4 linked regions of the Homo sapiens genome follow. The protein of the gene in region 1 interacts with the protein of each later gene in a biochemical or structural test. Each region holds a gene or a part of one and is shown in the gene's direction. Other genes may lie near its edges.

Evidence for each region.
Region 2: the proteins of MARCHF6 (region 1) and UBE2G2 form a complex in vitro, tested with the Homo sapiens proteins (2 studies listed by BioGRID).
Region 3: the proteins of MARCHF6 (region 1) and PLIN2 form a complex in vitro, tested with the Homo sapiens proteins (one study listed by BioGRID).
Region 4: the proteins of MARCHF6 (region 1) and UBE2J2 form a complex in vitro, tested with the Homo sapiens proteins (2 studies listed by BioGRID, with this or other methods).

What each region holds. Positions count from the first base shown.
Region 1 is NC_000005.10:10,398,685-10,405,718, forward strand, and holds part of MARCHF6 (E3 ubiquitin-protein ligase MARCHF6), read left to right. Parts: intron 1-2,099; coding exon 2,100-2,158; intron 2,159-2,228; exon of another isoform or gene 2,229-2,802; intron 2,803-3,374; coding exon 3,375-3,455; intron 3,456-3,679; exon of another isoform or gene 3,680-3,699; coding exon 3,700-3,768; intron 3,769-3,848; coding exon 3,849-3,923; intron 3,924-4,722; coding exon 4,723-4,857; intron 4,858-5,886; coding exon of another isoform or gene 5,887-5,937; exon of another isoform or gene 5,938-6,256; intron 6,257-6,873; coding exon 6,874-6,993; intron 6,994-7,034. UniProt on the Homo sapiens protein: Endoplasmic reticulum membrane-associated E3 ubiquitin ligase that plays a critical role in mitigating endoplasmic reticulum stress, the regulation of cholesterol and lipid homeostasis, and ferroptosis.
Region 2 is NC_000021.9:44,791,795-44,798,828, reverse strand, and holds part of UBE2G2 (ubiquitin-conjugating enzyme E2 G2), read left to right. Parts: intron 1-7,034. UniProt on the Homo sapiens protein: Accepts ubiquitin from the E1 complex and catalyzes its covalent attachment to other proteins. In vitro catalyzes 'Lys-48'-linked polyubiquitination. Involved in endoplasmic reticulum-associated degradation (ERAD).
Region 3 is NC_000009.12:19,124,492-19,132,236, reverse strand, and holds the start of PLIN2 (perilipin-2), read left to right. Parts: upstream 1-4,744; 5' UTR 4,745-4,818; intron 4,819-5,788; 5' UTR 5,789-5,810; coding exon 5,811-5,840; exon of another isoform or gene 5,841-5,927; coding exon 5,928-6,123; intron 6,124-7,745. UniProt on the Homo sapiens protein: Structural component of lipid droplets, which is required for the formation and maintenance of lipid storage droplets.
Region 4 is NC_000001.11:1,253,387-1,256,863, reverse strand, and holds the end of UBE2J2 (ubiquitin-conjugating enzyme E2 J2), read left to right. Parts: intron 1-738; coding exon 739-819; intron 820-1,376; coding exon 1,377-1,661; 3' UTR 1,662-2,952; downstream 2,953-3,477. UniProt on the Homo sapiens protein: Catalyzes the covalent attachment of ubiquitin to other proteins. Seems to function in the selective degradation of misfolded membrane proteins from the endoplasmic reticulum (ERAD).

The sequences.
Region 1 (7,034 bases):
TTAAAACATGAATTATACAAATAAGAACTCTGATTTATAGAAATCAAATCTAAGTAAAGCTTTTTCTAATCCAACCTCCTGAGCTTATATTGCGAAAAGAATTTTCTTAGTAAACTTATGTTTTATTATATAGTTAGAATCTTTTGGAATCTTTTGAAATGAAACAAGTTTTCTTCCATTAGGAACATACTTTTTCTTTTAATCATTGGGATTAAACACCCTCCTGTTTTTTTCTTGCATGGGTTGCTCTGTTGGAAGTTTTCTACAGGCAGTTTTTTGGCTCTTGTGGTCATATGCTTTGCAGAAATATAATTTGACAAAGCTGTGGTCTTCCACTAGAAGGTGACAATCCTGAGAAATTGTCCTTAATTTCAGGATGCCTTTCCATTAGTTTGTGTGTAATGGGATGGAAATTGATTGTTGCAACTGGTATTTAAGGTTAATAATTATTTAATACATCTGCTAATAGAGTTAAAACTTGCCCCTCCCAGGGGCCTAGTTGAGTCATCTTCAGACTGGGATATGAGAGCAAAATAGGCAAAATTCAACATACAGTTTTTTTCCTTACCTTATTAAATTTCTTCTGCTTTATATTACACACAATATGTTAGTAAACTAATACGTATATATAATTTATAAATAAATTTAAATATATTGGAAATACATGTTCAAAAATATTCTTACCCATGAAATAGTCAGAAAGGGTTAGAGGCCAGATCCCTAGTAGGTTCACTCTGACTTCTGTCTTCATGATTGAGTTTCCCACTCCCCTGGTAATCTACTGCGCTGTCGATTTATTTCTACCATAAAGAAAAGATAACTATATTTTATTATTAGGAATGAAGTAAAATTTAGCCAGAAAGACTTGAGGAAAAAGAAGACTATAAAAATTCTCTTGCTATAAAGGTTTTAAAAATACTTTCATACTTAGCTATAATGCCATTATCTCACCTTACAAAATTACTAGAATTTGGTATTTCCTAATAATCCATCATATTCAAACTCTCTGGGTTGTCCCTTACATACCATTTTGCAGTTGGTTTCTTTGAATGAAGACCCAAATAAGGTCCACATATTACTTTTAGTTGTTAAGTTATAAGTTATTAGTCTTTTAATCTAGAGTACTCTTCTCTTTGCTTCCCCCAACTCACCCTATTTGGCCATTGATTTGTTGCTGGGATTAGGTTAACTGTTCTTGCAGCATGTCATGTTTTACATCTGTCCATCTGCTTCCTGGATGTCCTCTGCCTTTATCCTTTGTCTCCCATATTTCTCTTAAACTGGAAGTCAGATCTAAGGGCCTTATTAGATTCAGGTTGAATACATCTGGGACAAATCCATCACTGGTCACACTGTGCCTATTAATAGTATATGTGAGGAGCTGAGATACATGATGTTGGATTATCCACTTTTATCACTGGATTCAGCTGATATCAACCTGGGCCTCTAATCTTAGGTTTTGTTTTTCCCTTTACCATTATAAAATAATCTGTTGGGAGTGATATTTTAAACAGTCATTTTTTATATTTATTGGCTGACTTTTCTGAAAGAAGAAGAAATTCTTATCAATTTGGGACTATTCAGTCAACCCAAACCTGTCTGTCCGGGGCAAGTAGGACAGATGCTCATATTTTTCCCATTAATTTTGGTTTTCAGAATAAGGAATTGGTGTATTAACTATTCACATGGGTGTGCTAACTGCTTCCAAAACATCAAAGTGTTTTCTTTGATGTTGCTTTTTCTCTTTTCGTGATTATTATTTTGGACTTTTCCTTTTTTGAGCATCATAAACTCATGGATTTGTGTATGTTCAGTGTTTTTCCATCAGTTTTGGTCATTATTCTTTTTGATGCTCATATTATCCTCTCTTTGGCCTGTTTTCACAATGGTTTCTGTGTTGATTTGGCATGGCCCTATTAGACCTTAATAGCTTTGTTGTTCTCTAGTTACAGAGAATGTCCTAGGCAGTGTATTTTTAGCCTAGTTCTGGAATCTTTCATTTCTCCAAGAAGCCCTAGTTCCTTTTAGTGGGGAATTGTAGTAGGAGTGTTCATTGTTTTGATGTCGGAGTTTTCATGGAATTTTTTCCCCCTTTTTAGCATTTTGCCCTTACCATATTGGTCATTTCTCCCTTGTTGGTTTGGGATTTGAAGAACACGTGAGTATAATACTTTTACAAAGTTACTTTCATTCATTACTCCCAAATGTGATTATTAATAAAATAGTATTCTAAAGAGTTACATCATTTCTTCATTGGCATTATGCAAGGGAATAGTTAGGCAATACCGTCTCATTCTTTTTTAAAAAAAATAACAGTGGCTCAAGAGATAGTGGTCATGTTGCCAACTAATGAAAATGTGCTCTGAAATCCAGTCAGCTGGGTGGGCCTGAGGCATACCGTGGGAAAGTTTCCCACAGGCTGATTTTCTGTCCATCTCAAGAACCTGTATGTTCTCTTCTTTCCCTTTCCCCAGGTGCCCCCTGCTGAATTTAGAAAAGTAACAATATATCAATCAATTTAAAAAGGGTAGAATATTTTGGAATGACGGGTTGTAGTGTTTTCTAGAGTGCTTTAGTTTTGACATTTTATCAGTATTTTCCAGAGGTAAATAAATTTTGGAAGGATTATTACTTCTCTGTTGGGGCCCTAGAACAATTTAGTCTTTTATGGAAAAGCTGACTATCTGGGATCATATGCTCAGTTTGTATATTTGAGATCTGAGAGATCACGTTCTGAAGTCTTCTCATATTTAGTACACCTCTGATTCTCACTAGTTGAATGCAAGAACTTGAAAGGTTCAGGTAAGTGTTTTGAAAAATTTTGACTTTCCAAACTTTTGCCACTTGCTATCTGAAACTCAGGAATCAAAAAATACCGACAGGCACTGTTACTTTCAAAATTCTTTCTATAAGTTGAGAATGGGACAGATTTGCAGAGCAAGGGAAACTTGAACAGTTACTTCTAGTGGTAGGAAATGAGGTGGCTAGGATATTACCCAGCTGGTGGGTGACTTGGGCAGTGTGTTCCTGCTTTCAGTGGTTAGCCTTTAGCAAATCTGCTTTAGAGTGAGAGTAGAGGGCAGGCTGTTGTATTACAGTGCTCTTGTTTTTGTAAAATTTAATTCACTCTACTGTTATTTTGTCTCCTTGGGTAAAGTGTTATTTAATTTTTCTTCATTTTTTAGTAATATATAACAGTCAGTGAGAGAATTTGGTTTTCAGAGATGTCATCCAAAGCAGATTTTACAGTTGTTTCCTGGTTATAAATTGTCTCAACAATTCTCTTTTAGTCATTTAGATTGTTTAATATGGGAAAACCGGGGTGTAGAACATGTTGTAAAATTAAATTTTATTTACTTTTTTCTTATTTCCAGGTCCAAGCATCTCATTTTGAAGGCCTAATCACAACCATAGTTGGGTATATACTTTTAGCAATAACACTGATAATTTGTCATGTATCCTTTAATGAACCAACTTGGGTGTACACTAATATTATTCATACCAAAGAACTCTTCATTAATGGCGAAACTTGTCTATCCTTGTCCTCTTAGTAAAAGTTGTAGGTATTTGCAGTAAGGGTCAGTGTGGACAAAATGTGAAATAAATTAATTCTGTCAAAAAATACTAAATGTTGGCTAAGTAGTTACCTGTTTCATTGTACCTTTAAATACTCAGTTTTTCCTTGACCTGATGCTGTAGGGCTTGGCAACTCTTGTGAAATTTCATAGATCTCGTCGCTTACTGGGAGTCTGCTATATTGTTGTTAAGGTAATTCCTGTTATAACTTAAAATTGGAAATGATTTCTCCTACATTTGGGTGATACTGATGACCTTTATTTTCACTTAAGGTCTCTTTGTTAGTGGTGGTAGAAATTGGAGTATTCCCTCTCATTTGTGGTTGGTGGCTGGATATCTGTTCCTTGGTAAGTTGAGTATTCATTATTGTATAATAGCATAATTTAAGGGCTTCAAAAGAGGAAGTCTTCAGCATGTATTCTTTTTAAAGGAAAGCAAATATTTGATAATTTGCTTATTCTTTTGGCATGTGTATCAGTATAGGATCTTAATGTTAATTTTTCTTGAGTACCTGAGTTTTTGAGGCTTTGTGCAAATTTTTGATGTCAGGATAGTTTGGGTGGAATCTTTCTAATAGTGGAGGATTTTATTGCCCATTTTGCTGTCGTAAATTTGTGTAGATAATGCCAAGACATTATATACATAGAGAATAATTTGATAAGGAAACTGTCTTTGTAGTAATAAATTTAACCCTAATCATTTGATTTAACTAATATGCTCAGTCTTGATTATACTCTTTAATTGCTGTTAGTGATAATCAGTTTTTGATTGTTTCAAAAATATTTTATGTGTAGAAAAGCTGCCTTTGGTTCTGAGATAACATTTACCCTCCCATACCTTACTTTTAAAACTTCTCAAGAATGCAGACCTATAACCAAGAAAATTTTTTACATTCATCAAAAATAGTTCTTTAATAGAATCAGTATTAATAAAGCTTTTACTAATTGGTTTATCATTCTTTATATTTGAAGCAGTAGCCAATCTTGTATATAGTTCTGTGACACCGTGGAATGACATTAAGTGAACTGCAGTTCTAGGAATTGTTCCTTGCATGCATATTGATTATTTATTTCCTAGAAGATGAAAATGTTAACTTGGCAAATGTAGGGGGCACAGATTTCTCTTACCTGTCCTCTTTTGTCTCAGGAAATGTTTGATGCTACTCTGAAAGATCGAGAACTGAGCTTTCAGTCGGCTCCAGGTACTACCATGTTTCTGCATTGGCTAGTGGGAATGGTATATGTCTTCTACTTTGCCTCCTTCATTCTACTACTGAGAGAGGTAAGTCCACAGGGAAATGCTGATGCTGTACATTTATAAAAAGGACTTTTGCTTTCACCACCAGTCATGTCTCAAAGGCTATGATGATTTCCTACCTAAATCATATTCTCTACTATTTTATTCTAAGAGGGAATAACTTATAGGGGACTTTGACTTAATTACTTTAAACTGTTTCAGTTGTTTGTCTCCATAATTGGCAAGTTTTAATATTTCTGTCTGAGTTTGAAAGACGATTCAACTGAGGAAAAAGATAAGAGTACTCATTTTGTCACACTTCGTATATACTTTAGCCATCCTCTAATACAGACTCTTGGAATTTTGTATGATGTGAGTGTGTCTCAGACTTCAAGGAACTGTACTGCTGGAAATAACCAAAAGGATATGGTTTTGCAGGATCAGACATGTAAAATCATTTTGATTTAGGCGCCTTAAGTATAGAATTACAATGAGGGTCCTTTATGATTCCAGTTCACTGGCCTGATGGATTACCTTTATTTATTTATTTATTTATTTATTTATTTATTTATTTATTTATTTACTTATTTACTTTTTGATACTGAGTCTTGCTCTGTTGCCCAGGCTGGAATGTAGTGCCATGATCTTGGAACCTCCACCTCCCAAGTTCAAGTGATTCTCCTGCTTGAACCTCCCAAGTAGCTGGGACTGCAGGCACCCACCACCATGCCCGGCTAATTTTTGTATTTTTAGTAGAGACAGGGTTTCACCATGTTGGCCAGGCTGTTCTTGAACTCCTGACCTCAAATGATCCACCCACCTTGGCCTCCCAAAGTGCTGGGATTACAGGTGTGAGCCACTGTGCCTGGCCTGATACCTTTATTAGTTCTATGTTTCTAATCTGGTTCTTAGTGATTTGAAGATGATGAAAGCAGTTGAGTATTTGATTAGTGTACATCTCAAGCTCAGTCATTCCCCAAATACTGAATGGTCACTGTGTGCCGGACACTATACTGCATTCTGGGGTTTCAGTGAGAAACAAAGGCACAATTCCTGTTCTCCTCGATTTTATAGCCTGAAAATGAATACAGCATTGAAAATGTTGGTTTACACGGAGACGGGTGATGGAGATGTGCAGGGTGTGGAGGACCAGGTTGACAATTCCAGTGAGAAGGGAACACAAAAGCACAAAGGCTGAATGCTGCTCTTGGTGTACTTTGTTCTTTGAAAGATTTGAGGAAGAGGAGGAGGGGTCAGGGACCAAAGCATTCTCCTGAATCATACGGTATAATTTCAGTAAATTCTCTTGGTAACTAAAGCTTTCATTCTTTCTTTGAAACAACTGATTGAGAACTAAAGCAAGTACAGAAATGTGTTTCTTAAAAATGTAATTATATGTGAACTCCAGATTACTTCATTAAGTGAATAAAATGCTTTATAATGATTTCTTTCATTTTATCAGTGTGGTGGTTTTTGTTGATATAAAATTTTAATATGTGGAACTTAGGCAGAACCTTAGAAATCACACACTGTAACCCCTTGTTTAGGAGATGGAGAATAGAAGTTTGGGCAGATTAGATGCGTTACACAGAGGGTAACTCAGTGAGTTTGGACCACATAGAACTAGTACCCAGACTCCTCCTTTACCCCATCACCTGCAGCCTCTTGGGTGATGATTTTCATTTACAGGGGGAAGGCAAATCAGACCGTCTATTTAGTACATTTATAAATTGCAACATAACCCTTTTACGATAGTAATGGTTGTATTTATTTTTCGTCTCAGAGGTCTAGATTTCTTGACACATTGGACCCAATGAATGTTTTTTTTTTCCCCCGCCCCTAGTGAATGATGATGTCAAAGGACATCATCAGACACAGGGTAGTTTTCATAAAGATTCTGGTTTAGGAACTTACTTTCCTAAGAATACCATGTACATTTTCTGGGGCCCACTTTAGATGCCAGAATAATTCTAAGTGCTTATCTTTCTGTTAATGTTTTAGCTCATATATAGAATTTGAAGACATTGGTGAATATTCATAGTATTTAAAATATATTTGCAGGTACTTCGACCTGGTGTCCTGTGGTTTCTAAGGAATTTGAATGATCCAGATTTCAATCCAGTACAGGAAATGATCCATTTGCCAATATATAGGCATCTCCGAAGATTTATTTTGTCAGTGGTAAGAAGATGTTTCCATTGTTTTTTTTTTTTGAATTAATT
Region 2 (7,034 bases), on another chromosome or scaffold:
ATGGCATTAAGAACATCTGTGATTCATGGGAGGTCACCATATCAACAACAGGCGTTTGAAAAAGTTGATTTCAATGCTCATGGATGACTTTAAGGGGAGGAAGCAACTGCAGGTGTGGTAGAAATGGCAAGGGAACTGGAATTAGAGGTGGAGCCTGAAGATGTCACTCAGTTGCTACAATCTCATGATCAAACTTGAACAGATGGGGAGTTGAGTCTTACAGATGAGCAAAGAAGTGATTCTTGAGATGGAATCTACTCCTGGTGAAAATGCTGTGAACATTGTTGAAATGACAAAAGATTGAGACTATTCCATAAATTTAGTTGATAAAGCAGCCGCAGGGTTTGAGGGTATTGACTCCAGTTTTGACTGAAGTTCCACTGTGGGTAAAGTGCTGTCAAACAACATCACAGACTACAGAGCAATCTTTTGTGAAAGTAAGAGTCAGTCCCTGTGGCAAACTTAATTGTTGTCTTATTTTCAGAAACTACCACAGCCACTCCTGCCTTCAGCAACTACCACCCTGATCAGTCAGCAGTCATCAATATCCGGGCAAGACTGCACCGGCAAAAAGATTATGACCTGCTGAAGGCTCATATGATTGTTAGCATTTTTTAGCAATAAAAATTAAGCATATTTTGGCAAATAATAATTATTTATTTATTTATTTTTTGAGACAGGGTCTTGCTCTGTCACCCAGGTTGGAGTGCAGTGGCACAACCACAGCTCATTGCAAGCCTTGACCTGGGCTCAAGCTATCCTTTCACTTAATCCACCTGAGTAGCTGAGACTACAGGCATGTGCCCCTACACCTGGCTGATTTTTCTGTCTTCATCTTGACCTCCCTCTATGTTGTCAGGGTTTGGCGAAAGTGACTCCATTTTGATTCTGACAATGTTCATACTCGAACAGAGGGTTGGATGTGGGGGACTATTACTTCTGTGTCCTCATGGGAAACCTGGCTGGTGGGTCAGATGTGTGAACACCTACCATTTCTTGGTATCCTGGTTTGTGTTTGTGTCTCTGTTTTAGTTTTATTTTAGCCCTATTTCTAGGGTTAGGCTAGACTGTGAGCAGGTATTTTCTCTTTTTTTTTTTTTTTTTTTTTTTTTTTGAGACGGAGTTTTGCTCTGTCGCCCAGGCTGGAGTGCAGTGGCGCAATCTTGACTCACTGCAGGCTCCGCCTCCCGGGTTCATGCCATTCTCCTGCCTCAGCCTCCCGTGTAGCTGGGACTACAGGCGCGCGCCACCATGCCCGGCTAATTTTTGTATTGTTAGTAGAGACGGGGTTTCACCGTGTTAGCCAGGATGGTCTCGATCTCCTGACCTCGTGATCCGCCAGCCTCGGCCTCCCAAAGTGCTGGGATTACAGGCGTGAGCCACCACGCCCGGCCTTCTCATTTTTATTGAGAAGAAAATCATTAAACCCCTGCATAGGAAATTAAGTTCAGGCTGCTGCTTCAGGCCAGTCTTTGCATTGTTGAACTTGCATTTTCTAAGGATATTTGCATTAGCAAAGATATGTTCTCCCTTTTATTGTCCTGACAGAAGCTTCATCTGTTATTTCAATTATATTGTCAATTAGTTTGCAGTAATAAGACCTAAATAATGGTTGATTTCCGAAGGTTTGTCACGGAAGTGTGTTGTGTGTTTTTACATGTTAACATGAAATTTTGGACTATGTGTAGAAGGTAGAACTCTAAACATACCTCACTAAGATTCCCATGCCCTTGTTATTCAAGCACTTTCTAGTACTTCGGTGGAGGGACTTTGGAGATGCAAGTCAGGTTAGTAATCAGCAGACCTAAAGAGTGGGAGATTATTCTGGATTACCGTGAAGGATCCAATAATAACATAAGGCTCAAAAGCAGTCAGTGAAGGCAGGATGGGGGTGGTCAGAGAGATTCAACATATGACAAGATCTCTACCTTCTGTGGCTGGCTGTGAAGATGGAAGAAGGAGCCATGACCTAAGGAAGGCGGGCAGCCTCAAGAAGCTGAGAATGATCCCAGACCAACAGACCCGTGGAAGTGAATTCTGTCAGCAACCTCAATGAACTTGGAGTGGCAGCCCTGGTGAGACTCTGAGCAGAGAACTAGCTGGCCCATGCTGTGTCCAGACTTCTGACGCTTGGAAACTCTGAGATCATCAATGAGTATTGTTTTAAATCACTAAATTTGTGGTAATTTGTTACAGCAGTGACAGAAGATGAATACAGTGTGTTATTGAGGGGACTTTGTTTTTCCTGTATCTTAATAATGTGATAAAATTTAGTGGGTTTTTTTTGTGTATCATTTACTGGTTTTTTTTGTGTGTGTATCTTAACATCTAGTTTGTCCTCATAACGTATTTTAAGGTAGCACATTCCAGTGTAAAGGTGGACTTGACAGAATCAATCTCTACATAGAAGGGGTTTAGATAAATTTGGTTAGATGTTCATGCACACTTTATTGTATTTGGGAGTAGTCATATAACTGCAGAAATTCAGAGGTGGTGGGACCTTGGCTATGATTCTGTTCAAGCCCCCTAATTTTACAGATTTTATGGAATTGAGCAACAGACAAGATGATTTTGCCTAGGTTCATAAACAGGAAAAAAGGAGAGCCAGGAAAGAACTCAATTGTTGTAAACTGCTGTCTTGTCTTGATGTTCTGTCTTCATTCATCATCCAGCCTTTCCTAGGAGTGTCAGAGATAGACCCAGGTAGAAGTGGGCTGCCCATGGGGGGCTTAGCACAACAGAAATTTATTCTTTTACTGTTCTGGAGGCCAGACATCTAAAATAAAGGTGTTGATGGGGTCATTCTTCCTCTTGAGGGCTCGAGGGGAGAACCCTTACTTGCCTCTTCCAGCTAATGGTGATTGTTGGTCATCCTTGGCGTTTATTGTCATTCTCTTGCTTGAGGTAGTGTAATTCTAATCTCTGCCTCCATCTTCGCATGGCCATCTTCCCCCTGTGTGCATGTCCTAAATGTACATGTCTTTCTGTGGATATATGCTTTTATTTCTCCTGTGTAAATAACCAGGGTTATAATGGGAAGTGTGTGTTTAATTTTTAAAGAAACGGCCAGTTTTCCTCTAGTTCACATTTCCCTAGCAGTGTATTAAGTGTTCCCGTTGCCCCACCTCCTTGCTGACACTTCGCGTGGCCAGTTGTTTTTTGTTTTCTTTTTTCTTTCTTTCTTTCTTTTTTTTTTTGAGACAGGTTCTCACTCTGTCACTCGGGCTAGAGTGCAGTGGTGTAGTCATGGCTCATGGCAGCCTCTGCCTCCTAGGCTCAAGCAATCCTGCCACCTCAGCCTCCCAAGAAGCTGGGATTACAGTTGCATGCCACCTCGCTTAGCTAATTTTTGTATTTTTAGTAGAGATAGGGTTTCGCCATGTTGCCCAGGCTTGTCTCGAACTCGTGGGCCCAAGCAATCTGCCCGTCTTGGCCTTCCAAAGTGTTGGAATTACAACTGCGAGCCACTGCGCCCTTCCAGTTTTAAAAATTTTAGCCATTCTATTGGGTGTATAGCAGTCTTACTGAGGTTTTGTTTTATTTATTTATTTTTTTTTATTTTTTATTTTTGAGGTGCTCTCTCTGTCATCCAGGCTGGAGTGCAGTGGCATGATCTCAGCTCACTGCAACATCTGCCTCCTGGCTTCAAGTAATTCTCCTGCCTCAGCTTCCCAAGTAGCTGGGGCTATAGGCGCGTGCCACCACACCTGGCTAATTTTTGTATTTTTAGTAGAAACGGGATTTCACTATGTTGGCTAGGCTGGTCTCTAACTCCTGACCTCAGGAGTTTGCCTCGCCTCCCAAAGTGCTGGGATTTACGGGCATGAGCCACAGCCCCCGGCCCTTACTGAGGTTTTCATTTGCATTTCCATAAGACTCGTGATGTTGAGCATCATTTCACGTGTTTATTTGCCATCCATATGTCTTTTTAGATAAAGTGACTTGAGTCTTTGCTTCTTTCAAAATTGTGTTGATTTTCTTAAGTTTTAGTTCTTTGGCTGGGCGCAGTGGCTCACGCCTGTAATCCCAGCACTTTGTGGGCTGAGGTGGGCGGATCACGAGGTCAGGAGATGGAGACCATCCGGGCTAACACGGTGAAACCCCCTCTCTACTAAAAATACAAAAAATTAGCTGGGCATGGTGGCGGACCCCTGTAGTCCCAGCTACTCAGGAGGCTGAGGCAGGAGAATGGCGTGAACTTGGGAGGTGGAGCTTGCAGTGAGCCGAGATCACGCCACTGCACTCCAGCCTGGGTGACAGAGCGAGACTCCGTCTCAAAAAAAAAAAAAAACAAAAAAAGAAGGGTTTTTATTATTTCGATGAAATTCAATTATTGACTTTTAAAATATTTCTTGCTATTGTGTTATATTTAAGAAATAACTGCCAAACATCAGGTGGCAGTAGGATTTTCTCCTATGATTTCTTCTAGATGTTTTATAGTTTCAGCTCTTGTATTTAGGTTTGGGATCCATATCAAAGTTTTCCATATGGTATGAGATAAAGGCCAAGGTTTATTTGTAAATTATTTGTAAATGGCAGTGCAGTTGTTTCAGCACTGTGTTTGCTAGGGCTGCTCTACCACACAGGCTGGGCACGGCTTAAACAACAGAAATGTATTTCCTCATAGTCCTGGAGGCTGGAAGTCCAAGATCAAGGATAGGGCAGGGCTGGTTTCTTCTGAGGCTCTGTCCTCTATGCCTGTGTCCTCATCTCTTCTTAAAAGGATATTAGTCAGATTGGATTAAGGTCCACCCTAATGACCACATTAATTTTAATTACCTCTTAAAGGCCCTAGTCACACACTTTTCTCCACCTTCTTTTTTTTCATGTAATATGTCCTGAAGTTTGTTCTGTACTAGCATGTAGAGGTATTTATAGCTGCAAAGTACCCCACTGGTATATGTATCATAATTTGACTGGTCCTCTGTTGATAGACACTCAAGTTCTTTTTAATTTCTTTTTGTTTTTACAAATAGTCCTGAAATGAATAGCCTGTGTATACATTTTTTATCTTCACCAATGTTATCTGTGGGATGGATTCCTAGAAATGGAATTGCTGGGTCAAAGGTTATATTTCACTTTGTGTGGTAGCTATTTGTTAAGCCACTATTTTAAGTGGCAAGGAATGGCCTCTGAAAATTTCCCTGATACCAAGATTCGTCTCTTTTTTTGAACTTGTTTCTTATCAGTAAACATGAAACTGTATATTATTTTGTGTACGCGTGTATATGCTTTGGAAGCAAAAAACAAAATGGAAAAAATAAGTGCCCTGAACCATTCCCTCCAGCCTCTGAACTCATTTGCTGCACTTCTTTATTGACCAGTAGAGGCCACTGTTGAATAACAAAGCTGGCGGGAAGGCCAGCGCACACCCGGGCAGGTCTCTGTGCTGAGCCTGCATTGCCAGGAGCAGGTCTGGAGCTGCAGTTTTTAGACCACCCTTTCCCCTCCCTAAGGGAGGGTGTCACGCAGGGGAGTGCCAAAGGGGAACTCCAGATGAAGAATAAAGCCAGCTCTCTTTGGTACGAGCTCTTCTTCATGGTCCCACGAAGGTGATTTGTAAAGCTTTTGTGTGTTCTGCTGCCAGGCCTCTACTTAGTTGCCCACTGACATTGTGTTTCTCCCGCACCCCACCTGCTTAGCAGTTTACAGTCTATCTGCCGTAATCTGTTATTTTTTTCTTATAATTAGGCGGTTTGGCTTGAGACACAAGAATGGGACTAGATTTTAGATGACTGGGTGTAGGAAGCCTAGCAAATTAGGTTCTGTGGTTATTTCTCCTGATCTACTCCACATGAAGAGACACAAAGGGAGAACATCAGGGTGTGGCTTGTGAAATCCAAGGTCTTAGTCGGCTTGGTACTTGACCTCATTCACATTCAGTTCCCACCCACCCCTGAAATGTTTAATGCACTTGGCCCTTGGGGCCAGCACTTGCCTTTGGCCTGCCTTGCTGGCCCCTCCTTGCCACTCTGCCTTCTCTCACTGCTGGGTGTCAGCACACCCTTGTGACAGCACTTAGGTCTCTTCAGGACCTCTGTTTCCTGGATCAGGGCTTCTCAGCAGGTGTTAGTGGTATTTTGAGTGAAATAATTTTTCCTTGGGTAGGCCTTGTTCTACCCAAGGTTGTGGGTTCATTAAACGGTTAATCGGTACATTAGTCCGTTCTTATACTGCCATAAAGATACTACCTGAGACTGGGTAATTATAAAGGAAAGAGGTTTAGTTGACTCACAGTTCTGCATAACTGACGAGGCCTCAGGAAACTTATAGTCATGGCAGAAAGGGAAACAGACCTCTTCTCAAGGCGGTAGGAGAGAGAAGAGCAAGCCAAGGAAGAACTTGCCACACACTTATAGAACCATCATGTCTCCTGAGAACTCGCTATCACGAGAACAGCATGAGGGAAACTGCCCCCATGATCCAGTCACCTCCTACCAGGTTCCTCGCTCAACACTTTGGGGATTACAAGTCAAGGTGAGATTCGGGTAGGGACACAAAGCCAAACCATGTCATTTCTCCCCCTACCCCTCCCAAATCTCATGTTCCTTTCAAAACCATTCCATTTCAAAACAAATCATGCCTTCCCAGCAAGGCCCCCAAAGTCTTAACTCATTTCGTCATTAACTCAAAAGTCCAAGTCCAAAGTCTCATCTCTGACAAGGTAAGTCCCCTCTGCCTAGCAGCCTGTAAAATCAAAAGCAAGTTAGTTACTTTCAAGATACAATGGAAATACAGGCATTGGATAAATACTCCCATTACCAATGGAAGAAATTGGCCAAAACAAAGGGCTACAGGCCCCCATGCAAGTCCGAAATCCGGCTGGGCAGTCATTAAATCTTAAAGCTCAAAATGGTCTCCTTTGTGACCCCGTGTCTCACATCCAGGGCACACTGATACAGGGAGTGGCTTTCATGGTCTTGGGCAGCTCTGCCCCTGTGGCTTTGTAGGGTACAGCCCTCCCACACCCACCCCCTTCAGCTACTTTCATGGTGGGCATTGAGTGTCTTTGGCTTTTCTAGGTGCACAGTGCA
Region 3 (7,745 bases), on another chromosome or scaffold:
AAATCTGTGTGACTAGAGCTTAAAGTTTAAGATAGGTGCAACACAAAGTATCTGAGACAGGACTCAATCAATTTAGAAGTTTATTTTGCCAAGGGTAAGGACACACACATGGGAGACAGGTCTGTGCCTTTCTCCAAAGATGATTTTGAGGGTTTCAATATCTAAAGGGGAAAGGAGTGGATACTGGGGAGAGGAGAAATTGTTAAGGGGTGTGGGCCAGTAAGAGGCAAATGGTTGCATTCCTTTGAGTCTTTGATTAGCCATTGACATGTGAGATGGGGGGGTAGAGGAATAGTCACGCATTCATCTAGCTCAGTGAATCTGCATTTTTAAATAAGATAAAATAAACATAGGCCAGAGGGAGCAATCAAATATTAATTTGTCTCAGGTGAGCAGAGGGATGCTATTGTGTTCTGTCCTATGTCCCACATCTGTGAATATAAGCTATCAATTTACATTGTGAGGATGAAATTCAACAGAACTTTTTAGGGTAAAGATCTTGGGGCCCACAAGGAATTTCCTAGTGGGCAAATTATGAGGGAGGTATGTAGCTTTTTTGTTTTGTTTTCTTTTGAGACAGAGTCTCACTCTGTTATCCAGGCTGGAGTGCAGTGTCTCCATTATAGCGGTCCCCAACTGCAGCCTTGACCACCCAGGCTCAAATGATCCTTCCACCTCAGCCCAGCAAGTAGGACTACAGGCGCATGCCACCACACCCGGCTAACTTTTGTATTTTCTGTAGAGACGGGATTTCACCATGTTGCCCAGGCTGGTCTCAAACTCCTGGGTTCAAGTGATCGCCTGCCTCAGCCTCCCAAAGGGCTGAGATTACAGGCATGAACCACTGCGCCTGGCTTATGTAGCTTATCTTTGAATAGGAGGTTTGTGTGACACAGTCCCCAGCTTGACTTTTCCCTTTGGTTCAGTGATTTTGGGGTCCCAAGATTTATTTTCCTTTCACACAGGTAAAGTCCGGAGAAGAAGCTGGTGAGAAAGAGACAGGAGCCAGATGCTGAATGACGGTAAATCGAATCCTGGAGGGAACCAAACAAAACCCTGAAAACCTCCAGGAATCTCAGGTTGGCCAAATCCTTGGTAATGTCCTGCCACTCCCCAGGACTGCCACACTGTACACACCCTATCTAATGGCAACCTACTGCAGGGGCCAAGGAAAAACGTCTCCTTTGTCCTCTGGAGGTTCACTGAAAAATCAACTGGCGGAAAGCAAATTAACAGGTCAAAAGATATACATGTATTATTATAAAAAGACGTAAATGTATTATTGGGCATGTGGGGGAACCACAGAGTAATTACTCCACCTCTCAGTGGGCTCAGAAGCTTATATACCCCTCCTGAGGTTACAGAAAGTTTGGGGGCTCAGAGAATGGTGGTAAATCAGGATTTAGTGGCAAGACAGAAATGGAAACTTGGCTAGCAAAAGTCATTTCATTATGTAGATTGGGGTCCCCAAACTTTGGGCCATTTACACTGTGGCCATTTACATTCCTGTTAGGAATAGGGCCGCACAGCAAGAGGTGAGTGGCGGGTGAGTGAGCAATACCGCCTGAGCTCTGCCTCTTGTCAGGTCAGCAGCTGGTATTAGGTTCTCTTAGGAGCAAGAACGCCGCTGTGAACTGCACATGCAAGGGATCTAGGTTGCGGCTCCTTATGAGAATCTAATGCCGATGATTTAAGGTGGAACAGTTTCATCCTGAAAACCATCCCCCTGCCCTGGTCCATGGAAAAATTGTCTTCCATGAAACCTATCCCTGGTGCCAAAAAGGTTGGGGACCGCTCATGTAGATGAAACCTCACAGGTAGTAGCCATTGGAAAGAATAGATGGTTGATGTTTCTTTCAGACCTTTAAAGGTGTCAGACTGTCCATTAACCTTTCCTATATCTGGACGAGGGAAAACCTCAGAGAGCACCTGGCTGCATCAATGCAGATTTTCTCTGTATATTGCAAGCCTCTCTCACACACACACACACACACACACACACACACACACACACACACACACACACCAAACAGCTTCGTAGGACTACTTCCGCCTGCAGGTCCTCTGAACAGCCATATCTCAAAATATGTGAAAGAAGTATATTTTGGGGTAAAATTTTTTGGTTTCCTTCACTACACATCTCACCTTGGGTGTTATTCTTGCCACTGGTTTCATGTTCTCAGACTCACGAAGCTGAAAAACAGTTGGGGATGCAGAATTTGATGTGCTTCATCCTTTGTGGGCTTGAAGAGTCTCTTGTTCCCAAAATTATTCCCTGGGGCCCTCTGCTTCACAGGCAAATAAAAGCAAAAAGAAGCTTGCTCAGCCTTAAGTGAGGAAATGACTCACAGGTTTAAAACAAAAAAGGAAAAGATGGAGGCATTTTGTAGGTGAAAGGGCGAGAGTCTTCTGATGCAAAGTAAGAGGTCATTAGAGCAGGGATGGATTATCAATAAGCAGAGCAAACATTTGCTTAGGGAACAAACAGCGCCGGAACACGAAAAAGAAAAGAAAAACATAATAATTTAATTACTTAAAACACTGAAGATGGCAACATAGGAAAAAACCCAAACCAGAACATTTTTGGACTTCATAACATTTTATGGTTCAGTATTTATGGCTTAGTATTTTATTTTGAATTACATGTGGGGAGGAGGGGTAAAAATACTTTAATTTTTCTTGCTAAGTAAGTACTATTATATATTCAGGTATAATGGGATAAGGGATACCATTTTAATGGGTCCGTTTGGAGCTTTAAATATGATCAACAGTATCTGTGTGCATGCAAGATTGGTTAAGAAACTGGGTTAGACCGAGTGCGGTGGCTCACGCCTGTAATCCCAGCACTTTGGGAGGCCAAGGCGGGCGGATCACGAGGTCAAGCGATCGAGACCATCCTGGCCAACATGGTGAAACCCCGTCTCTACTAAAAATACAAAAATTAGCTGGGCGTGGTGGCCCGCGCTTGTAGTCCCAGCTACTCGGGAGGCTGAGGCAAGAGAATCACTTGAACCCGGGAGGCTGGGGTTGCAGTGAGCCAAGATCGCGCCACTGCACTCCAGCCTGGCGACAGAGCGAGACTCCGTCTCAAAAAACAACAACAACAACAACAACAACAGAAAATGAAAACAAATTGGGGTAAAAGTCTCTGAGAGCTTCCTACAGTTACAACTCCAAAGCTTCACAAAGCCAGTCCCTCCTGGCTGGAGCCAGGGACTCCAACGCTGTGGGCCTCTCAGGGGGCGGACCCGCGGCGCCAGCGCCTGCTCCCTTCCCACCTCCCAACCCTCCTCTCTGCTGTATCCTCCCTGCGAGCTGTGTCGGGGGCCGGGGGGGGGGAGTGGGGGCCGAGGCCGGACAGCTTCATCTGGAAATCCCCCGCCACTCACGGGGGAAGAAGTCCCACGAGCCCTATCTGGCCTCGGGCGCTGGCGCAACTTGTCTGCTCAAATAATCTCGTTCCAAATCTGTGCGTTTTACACAAGAAACAAACAAACAAAACAACAACAACAAAAAAACACAACTGGGACTCAGATGACGTTTTAAGTTGTCTTTGAAAAACAATGCATAACCCTGCACGTATAAAGTTGCCTATGTCACATAACCCTAGGCAGCTGTCATTCTGGAGTGATCTGGAGTTAAGTTTTTTGTTTTCTTTTTCTTTTTTCTTTTCTTTTTTTTTTTTTAGACAGGGTCTCAGTCACTCAGGCTGGGGTGCAGTGGTACAGTGGCGCGATCTCGACTCATTGCAGCCTCGACCACCTGGGCTCAAAAGATTCTTTCACCTCAGCCACCCACCCGCCTGCCCCCAACCCCGCTAAACAGCCGGGACTAGCTGGGACTACAGGCGCGCGCCACCACGCTGGGCTGCTTTCTTTGTATTTTGAGAGAGACGGGGTTTCGCCATGTTGGCCAGGCTGGTGATTCGCTCGCCTCGGCCTCCCAAAGTGCTAGGATTACAGGCGTGAGCCACCGCGCCCAGCCGCCACAAAACTTTTAAAAGTTATTACTTCGCTAAAAATAACAGCGTAGAAGCCATTGTGCAGCGCCACGCGATCTCGGCTCACTGCAGCCTCGACCTCCCAGGCTCAAGCGATCCTCCCATCTTAGCCTCGCAGGTAGCTGGGGCCACAGGCGCACGACACCACGCTGGGCTATTTTTTAAAATAAAATAAAAATCTTCGCCAGGCTGGTCTCGAACTCCTAGGCTCGACAGATCCTCTCGCCTCAGCATCCCAAAGTGTTGTGATTACAGGCGTGAGCCACCGCTTCCATTTTTAGAGTTCTATTCTGAGGACTAACGCCGTTCAACAAGTTGGTGTGAATTTGTTTGCATTTTTCAAAACCCCAAAGCCGGCCTGGGCGCCATCCCCATTTGCCCCGGGCCTCTCAGGACCCCGACCACAGGCAGGACCCCGACCACAGGCAGCGCCCCGACTCCAGGCAGCGCCCCGACTCCAGGCAGGGCTACCTCCAACTCCCAGCCTCCCCAGGCCGGGCCCCCGCCCGGCTCCCGACAGGCTCCTCTCCCCGTGGCGGGGCCCCTCGCCCAGGCAGCACACCCTCTCAACCCGACCGGGCCCCCACCACTCTAGGAGGGCCGGCGTTGGGGGAGGGCGCCGGGACGTGCCCGAGGGTGACACTCGGGCTTGGGACAGGGCGTGCTGCCGCGGGTCACGTGCTGCGGAGGCTTGGGGAGGGGCGGCGAGGCGGGGTTTATAGCCCGGGCGCCCGCGGGCCCCACGCTTTGACCGGGTCGTGGCAGCCGGAGTCGTCTTCGGGACGCGCCTGCTCTTCGCCTTTCGCTGCAGTCCGTCGGTGAGTGCGCGCCCAGTGGGTGCCCCAGCGAACCGGTCCCGGGCCCCCAGCGGCGCCCAGTTGGGGTGGGGGGCTCCCCGGGGCCTTGGGACCGCTGCTCTGCTCCCCGCGGGGCTCAAAGGTGGACGGGACGCGGGGGTGATGGTCCGAGACCCCCCGCTCGCCTCGCGGCTTCCAGGTCCTGGCTGGGTAGGGGCGGTCTGCTGAACCCGCGCTTTCGACCCTTGCCTTTGTGCGTTGAGGCTTCTTTCCTGCCAACAGATTTAGGGCGATTGCTATCGAATGTCCCTTGGCCTGCTTGGGTGGTTGTGGGAAAACAATATTTGTCGAAGGGACATTATCGAAAGGGAAACGCGTTAGAAAACCGCATTTTTTTTTTGACGGAGTCTCGCTCTGTCGCCCAGGCTGGAGTGCAGTGACGCCATCTAGGCTCACTGCAACCTCCGCCTCCCGGGTTCAAGCGATTCTCCTGCCTCAGCCTCCAGAGCAGCTGGGATAACAGGCGCCCGCCACCACGCCCGGCTAATTTTTGTATTTTTAGAAGAGACGGGGTTTCACCACGTTGGTCAGGCTGGTCTTGAACTCCTGACATCAAGCAGTCCACCCCCCTCGGCCTCCCAAAGTGCTGGGATTACAGGCGTGAGCCACCGCGTCCGGCTTGGCTAGCATTTTTGTTAACAGATACTCGGAGAAACAAGAGAAGTATGTCAACAACTTTACTTCTCCCTCCTGAGTATTGCAAGTTTACACATAAGCTCTGAAACTTTGCCTCAAAAGAGGGAGTGGGGTTGTGTGGGTGTGGGTCTTTCAGGAGGGGGACCTGGAGAGCTGGAGAGAGGAAAGAAGTGCAGAAGACTACAGGGAGCTCACCCTGCATTTTTCTCTACTTGTAATCAGCATTTGCTTGGGTTGGGGAATGAATTTGGGAGAGTCTTATCCCGGTGTTCTGAAATAAGTCTCTTTTCTGCAGATTTCTTTCTCCAGGAAGAAAAATGGCATCCGTTGCAGTTGATCCACAACCGGTATGAATTTTGAGTAGCCTTTGTCTACTTTCTCTCCTTTTGTGTTTTGAGAGATTAATAAGCATACCCTCCCTACTTTGATTGCAGAGTGTGGTGACTCGGGTGGTCAACCTGCCCTTGGTGAGCTCCACGTATGACCTCATGTCCTCAGCCTATCTCAGTACAAAGGACCAGTATCCCTACCTGAAGTCTGTGTGTGAGATGGCAGAGAACGGTGTGAAGACCATCACCTCCGTGGCCATGACCAGTGCTCTGCCCATCATCCAGAAGCTAGAGCCGCAAAGTGAGTTCTGATTTTTCAAGATGCAAGTCAAGGGACTGGTCAGTGGCGAGCCCCTGAGCTCACAGCAGTAACATCTGGAACTCCTCAGCCCTTCCTGGGGCATACACTGCCTTTACCTAGAAACTTTCAGGTGACCCTCATTACCGTAAGAGGACTGTTTCTTTTCTTTTCTTTCCTTTTTTTTTTTTTTTGAGATGGAGTCTCACTCTATCACTCAGGCTGGAGTTCAGTGGCGCAGTCTTGGCTCACTGCAACCTCTGCCTGCTGGGTTCAAGTGATTCTCCTGCCTCAGCCTCCCGAGTAGCTGGGACTACAGGCTCCCACCACCATGCCCAGCTAATTTTTGTATTTTTAGTAGAGACGCGGTTTCACAATATTGGCCAGGCTTAACTCCTGACTTTGTGATCCACCCACCTCTGCCTCCCAAAGTGCTGGGATTACAGGCGTGAGCCACCGCGCCTGTCCACAGAAGGCCTGTTTCATAGCTTTGGCAGATGTTTATGATCCTTTAATTAAAAATCCCCCAGAGGATGGGCACGGTGGCCTGCACCTGTAATCCTAGCACTTTGGGAGGTCTAGATGGGAGGATCGCTTGAGGCCTGGAATTTGAGACTGCTCACTGCAGTCTCTGCCTCTCGGGCTCAGGTGATTGTCCTGCCTCAGCTCCCTGAGTAGTTGGGATTACAGGCATACACCACCATGCCCAGCTAATTTTGTATTTTTAGTAGAGACAGGGTTTTGCCATGTTGGCCAGGCTGGTCAGGAACTCCTGACCCCAGGTGATCCGCCCGCCTCGGCCTCCCAAAGTGCTAGGACTACAGGTGTGAGCCACCATGCCTGGCCATGAATGAGTTTTAGAAATGGATAGTGGTGATGGTTGTATAATGTTGTAAATGGACTTAATGCCACTGAATTGCACAGTTAAAAATGGTTGAAATGGTGAAATTTGTTATGTATATTTTACCGAAATAAAGAATAGAAATGTCATACTCCATGAGAAATCTCATACTCTCATACTTAGTAGTCACTCCCCATTTCCTAACAACCACCCTGAGGCAGCTACTCATCTACTTTGTCTTTATAGATTTGCCTATGCTGGATATTTCTTATAAATGAAATCATAAAATGTGTGGGTTTTTTTGTGATTGGCTTCTTTCGTTAAGCATAATGTTTTCAAAGTTAATCTGTCTTGTCACATCATATCAGTACTTCATCTCTTTTTATTGTTGAATAGTAATTTACTGTCTAGACAGACAATATTTATTCATTCTTCAACTGATGGATGTTTGGGTTCGTTCTACTTTTGGAGATTATGTATAATGCTTCTGTGAACATTTGTATACAAGTTTTTGTGTGGACATGTTTTCAGGTTTTTTTGGTATATACCCAGGAGTGGAATTGCTGGGTTATATAATAACTGTTTAAGCTTTTGAGGAGCTGCCAGACTGTTTTCCAAATCAGCTGTACCATTTTACATTCCCACCAACACTGTATGGAGGCTCCAATTTCTCCACAACATGAACTGCTTTTGAATAAAGATTTAAATCATTCTTTCAAATGGTTAAGCCAGGGACTTTTAGGATTATAAGGAGCCTTTAGAGACCAGCCATTCCAACTCTGCT
Region 4 (3,477 bases), on another chromosome or scaffold:
CCAGGCTGGAGTGCAGTGGCGCAATCTCGGCTCACTGCAAGCTCCGCCCCCCGGGGTTCACGCCATTCTCCTGTCTCAGCCTCCCAAGTAGCTGGGACTACAGGCGCCCGCCACCACGCCCGGCTAATTTTTTTTTTTGTATTTTTAGTAGAGACGGGGTTTCACCGTGTTAACCAGGATGTCTTGATTTCCTGACCTCGTGATCCGCCCGCCTGGGCCTCCCAAAGTGCTGGGATTACAGGCGTGAGCCACCGCGCCCGGCCGCAGCTGCCTTTCTTCTCAGTAGGCGGGGCTGGGTGGAGTTCCCACCTTGTCCCAGGCACTGTCGTGGAGACTGCTTTGCTCTGTGGCCTCGTGTTCCCCGCTGCCTCTCGGTCTTGCTTTTATCCACATCCAGCCTCATCCACACCCGCCAGGGGCTCCTCCTTGGGATCTTGGGGTGGGCCAAGGCGGTACCAGTTGCACAGACGGCCCGGGCCTTGTCAGCGGGGAGCCCGGTGCTTTGGTGGCTTGTTTTTCCCTGTCTTTAATAGGAATCAAGTGTGATATCATGAATTGATGGGGGGAAGATTAAGAAGGCTTTGTAAGACTATAAGTTAGTTTGCTGTGAAGAGTGTGCTTATTAAATGCTTTCTGCAACACGAAGACTGCAGCCCTTGACTTTGAAATCATCTGTTTTTAGAATCTTGAAAGAATTGAAATTAGTTTTCTGGCTGATTCCCTTCCCTTCCTTCCTAGAAAAGACAACTGGCAGTGCAGAGTTTAGCATTTAATTTGAAAGATAAAGTCTTTTGTGAATTATTTCCTGAAGTCGTGGAGGTAAGAAAGACGGAAGTGGGTTTCGCCTTCCCCTGCGTTAAAACACTTGAGTTTCACCTCTTTCCAAAGAGTAAAATCTGTGTCCTGAAGCTGCAGACCTCCCCAGGGGATGGCTCCTCTCCCCCAGGAGCCCCGAGGCAGGGGAGGCAGAAAGCCTGGGCTCTGGGGGGTGGCCTGCGGACAGCTGTGCTGGTGGGCCGGGGGCTGGGCCTGTCCCACAGGGGCGTGGAGCTCGTGGTTCTGAGCAGCCAGCTGGGTGGTGTCTGGGGATAGCTGGGAGGCACAGCGGCTGCCATGTGGGACTGGGACTGGAGTGCTCCCTGGTCTTGGCCTCTGTGGCTCAGCCTTGCTCTGGTCTGCCTGAGTGCAGGGGCCAAGGGGCACAGGGCCAGTGAGGCCGGCCACGCTCGGGCCCTCACCTGTGAGATGGGGTCGGAATTTGACACAGCCTAGGGCTTGGTTCTTGGTGGTGGACCGTGGACTCCTGAGAACGGGAGTGCTGGTCCTGAAAGGCGCTGGTTGGAGACCAGCTGCTTTTCTCGCTGTTTTTCTCTTAGGAGATTAAACAAAAACAGAAAGCACAAGACGAACTCAGTAGCAGACCCCAGACTCTCCCCTTGCCAGACGTGGTTCCAGACGGGGAGACGCACCTCGTCCAGAACGGGATTCAGCTGCTCAACGGGCATGCGCCGGGGGCCGTCCCAAACCTCGCAGGGCTCCAGCAGGCCAACCGGCACCACGGACTCCTGGGTGGCGCCCTGGCGAACTTGTTTGTGATAGTTGGGTTTGCAGCCTTTGCTTACACGGTCAAGTACGTGCTGAGGAGCATCGCGCAGGAGTGAGGCCCAGGCGCCGAGACCCAAGGCGCCACTGAGGGCACCGCGCACCAGAGCGTGACCTCGGCAGGCTGGACACACTGCCCAGCACAGGCAGACCCACCAGGCTCCTAGGTTTAGCTTTTAAAAACCTGAAAGGGGAAGCAAAAACCAAAATGTGTGACTGGGCTTTGGAGGAGACTGGAGCCTCAGCCCTGTCCTGGCCACGGGCCGCTGGGGCTGGTGTGGGTGGGCCTTGTGTGCTGGATTTGTAGCTTATCTTCCGTGTTGTCTTTGGACCTGTTTTAGTAAACCCGTTTTTCATTTTATTAGATGTGGTCACTTAGAAATGCAAACTTGCTGCCGACCGCGGGCTGCTCCTGCGTTCTTGGAGCTCCTGGCGCGTTTCTCGGAGCTCCCGGCTCCTCAGCGGGTGGGAACCTCGGGGCCCAGGGGTGGAGCTGGCGTCCGCGGGTGCTGGTCTGGCCTGGCCGTGTGGTGATGAGGCTTAGCGGGGCCAGTGACGGCCGTGGCTCAGGATCCATAAGTCGGGGTTTGGTCTCAGCATTTACAAATGTGTTTACAGTCAGAATGAAACACATTCCTTCTAGAAAGTGCTTGGGGGTTTTTGCTGCCCTGGAAGCCAGGAGCCTGCTCACTCCAACCACAAGTCGCCCTTGACTGCGGCGGCCGCGAGCGGGGCGGGGGCTGCCGGTGCCCTCCGCAGGCCGGGCCTCCTGGGCGCCCCTCGGTGCTGCAGGCTGGGGGGCCTTGGGTACCTGCAGAGCCTTTTCTCTGAATTCCTTATGTCCGGTGGGCCAGAAGCCCGTCCTCCTATGCTGGTGGAAGGCGGAGGACCGGAGTCCCTGCAGAAGGCCCCGTGCACTCGGGGGCCTCCCTCACATCCCGTGCCCCCTGCGCTGGCCTTCACAGTAGGTAATGGCTCCGGCCCGGGTGTTCGCTGTCCACGGAACATGGCAGAGGGGCACCCCGGCCCGGAAAGACGCCAGAGCCAGCAGGGGCTGTTTCGGGCCGCGTGGCTCCCCGGGTCTCGGCCGTCTCCCCTCTTCTGCGTCTGTTCCGTGACTTCGCCTGGGTGGGATGTACCGCAGGTGCATCGCGTCGAGGTGGGGCACGGCCGCCGGCAAGAAACCCACCCTGTCCGGAGGCGGGCGTGAGACAAGCCCAGCCCGCACGCGCTCATCTTTCTTCGTTTTTTGATCAGTTTATTCAGAATTGCTCTATAATTTACCAATTGTATGTATTTAACCTATTCTTGTGGAAAAAAAAGGTCTTTCATTATATCTTTATTTCTGAATTTCATGCTGCTTGTGTCTGTGTGGGCCGGGATGTGTGTCCATCTCTGTGCTCAGGGCTGGGGTGGCCCGTGACCAGGGGGTCACACCTGCTGGCCTGGGGTGGTGTGGCAGCTGCAGGGCAGGTGGGTCCCCACAGGGAATCGCGTCGCTGGAGCCATGGTGTAGAGCCCTCTGCAGGGCTCTCTCCCCATCCCGTACTGGATGCCAGCCCTGCCCTGATCTCCGCTTCTGTGACCGCCAGCATCACTTCCAAAGCCCGGTGTCTCCCGAGGCTCATGGGAGGGGGAATGCTAACGAATAGAGTGTTTACTCAACACGCTACTGCCGGGTGCAGTGGCTGCCGCCTATAATCCCAGCACTTTGGGAGGCTGAGGGGTGGATCTCTTGAACCCAGCCTGGGCAATGTAGTGAGACCCCATCTCACAAAAAATACAAAACACTACCTGGTGTGGTGATGTGCACCTTTGGTCCCAGCTACTCAGGAGGCTGAGGTGGGAGGATTGCCTGAGCCCGGCAGGTGGAGG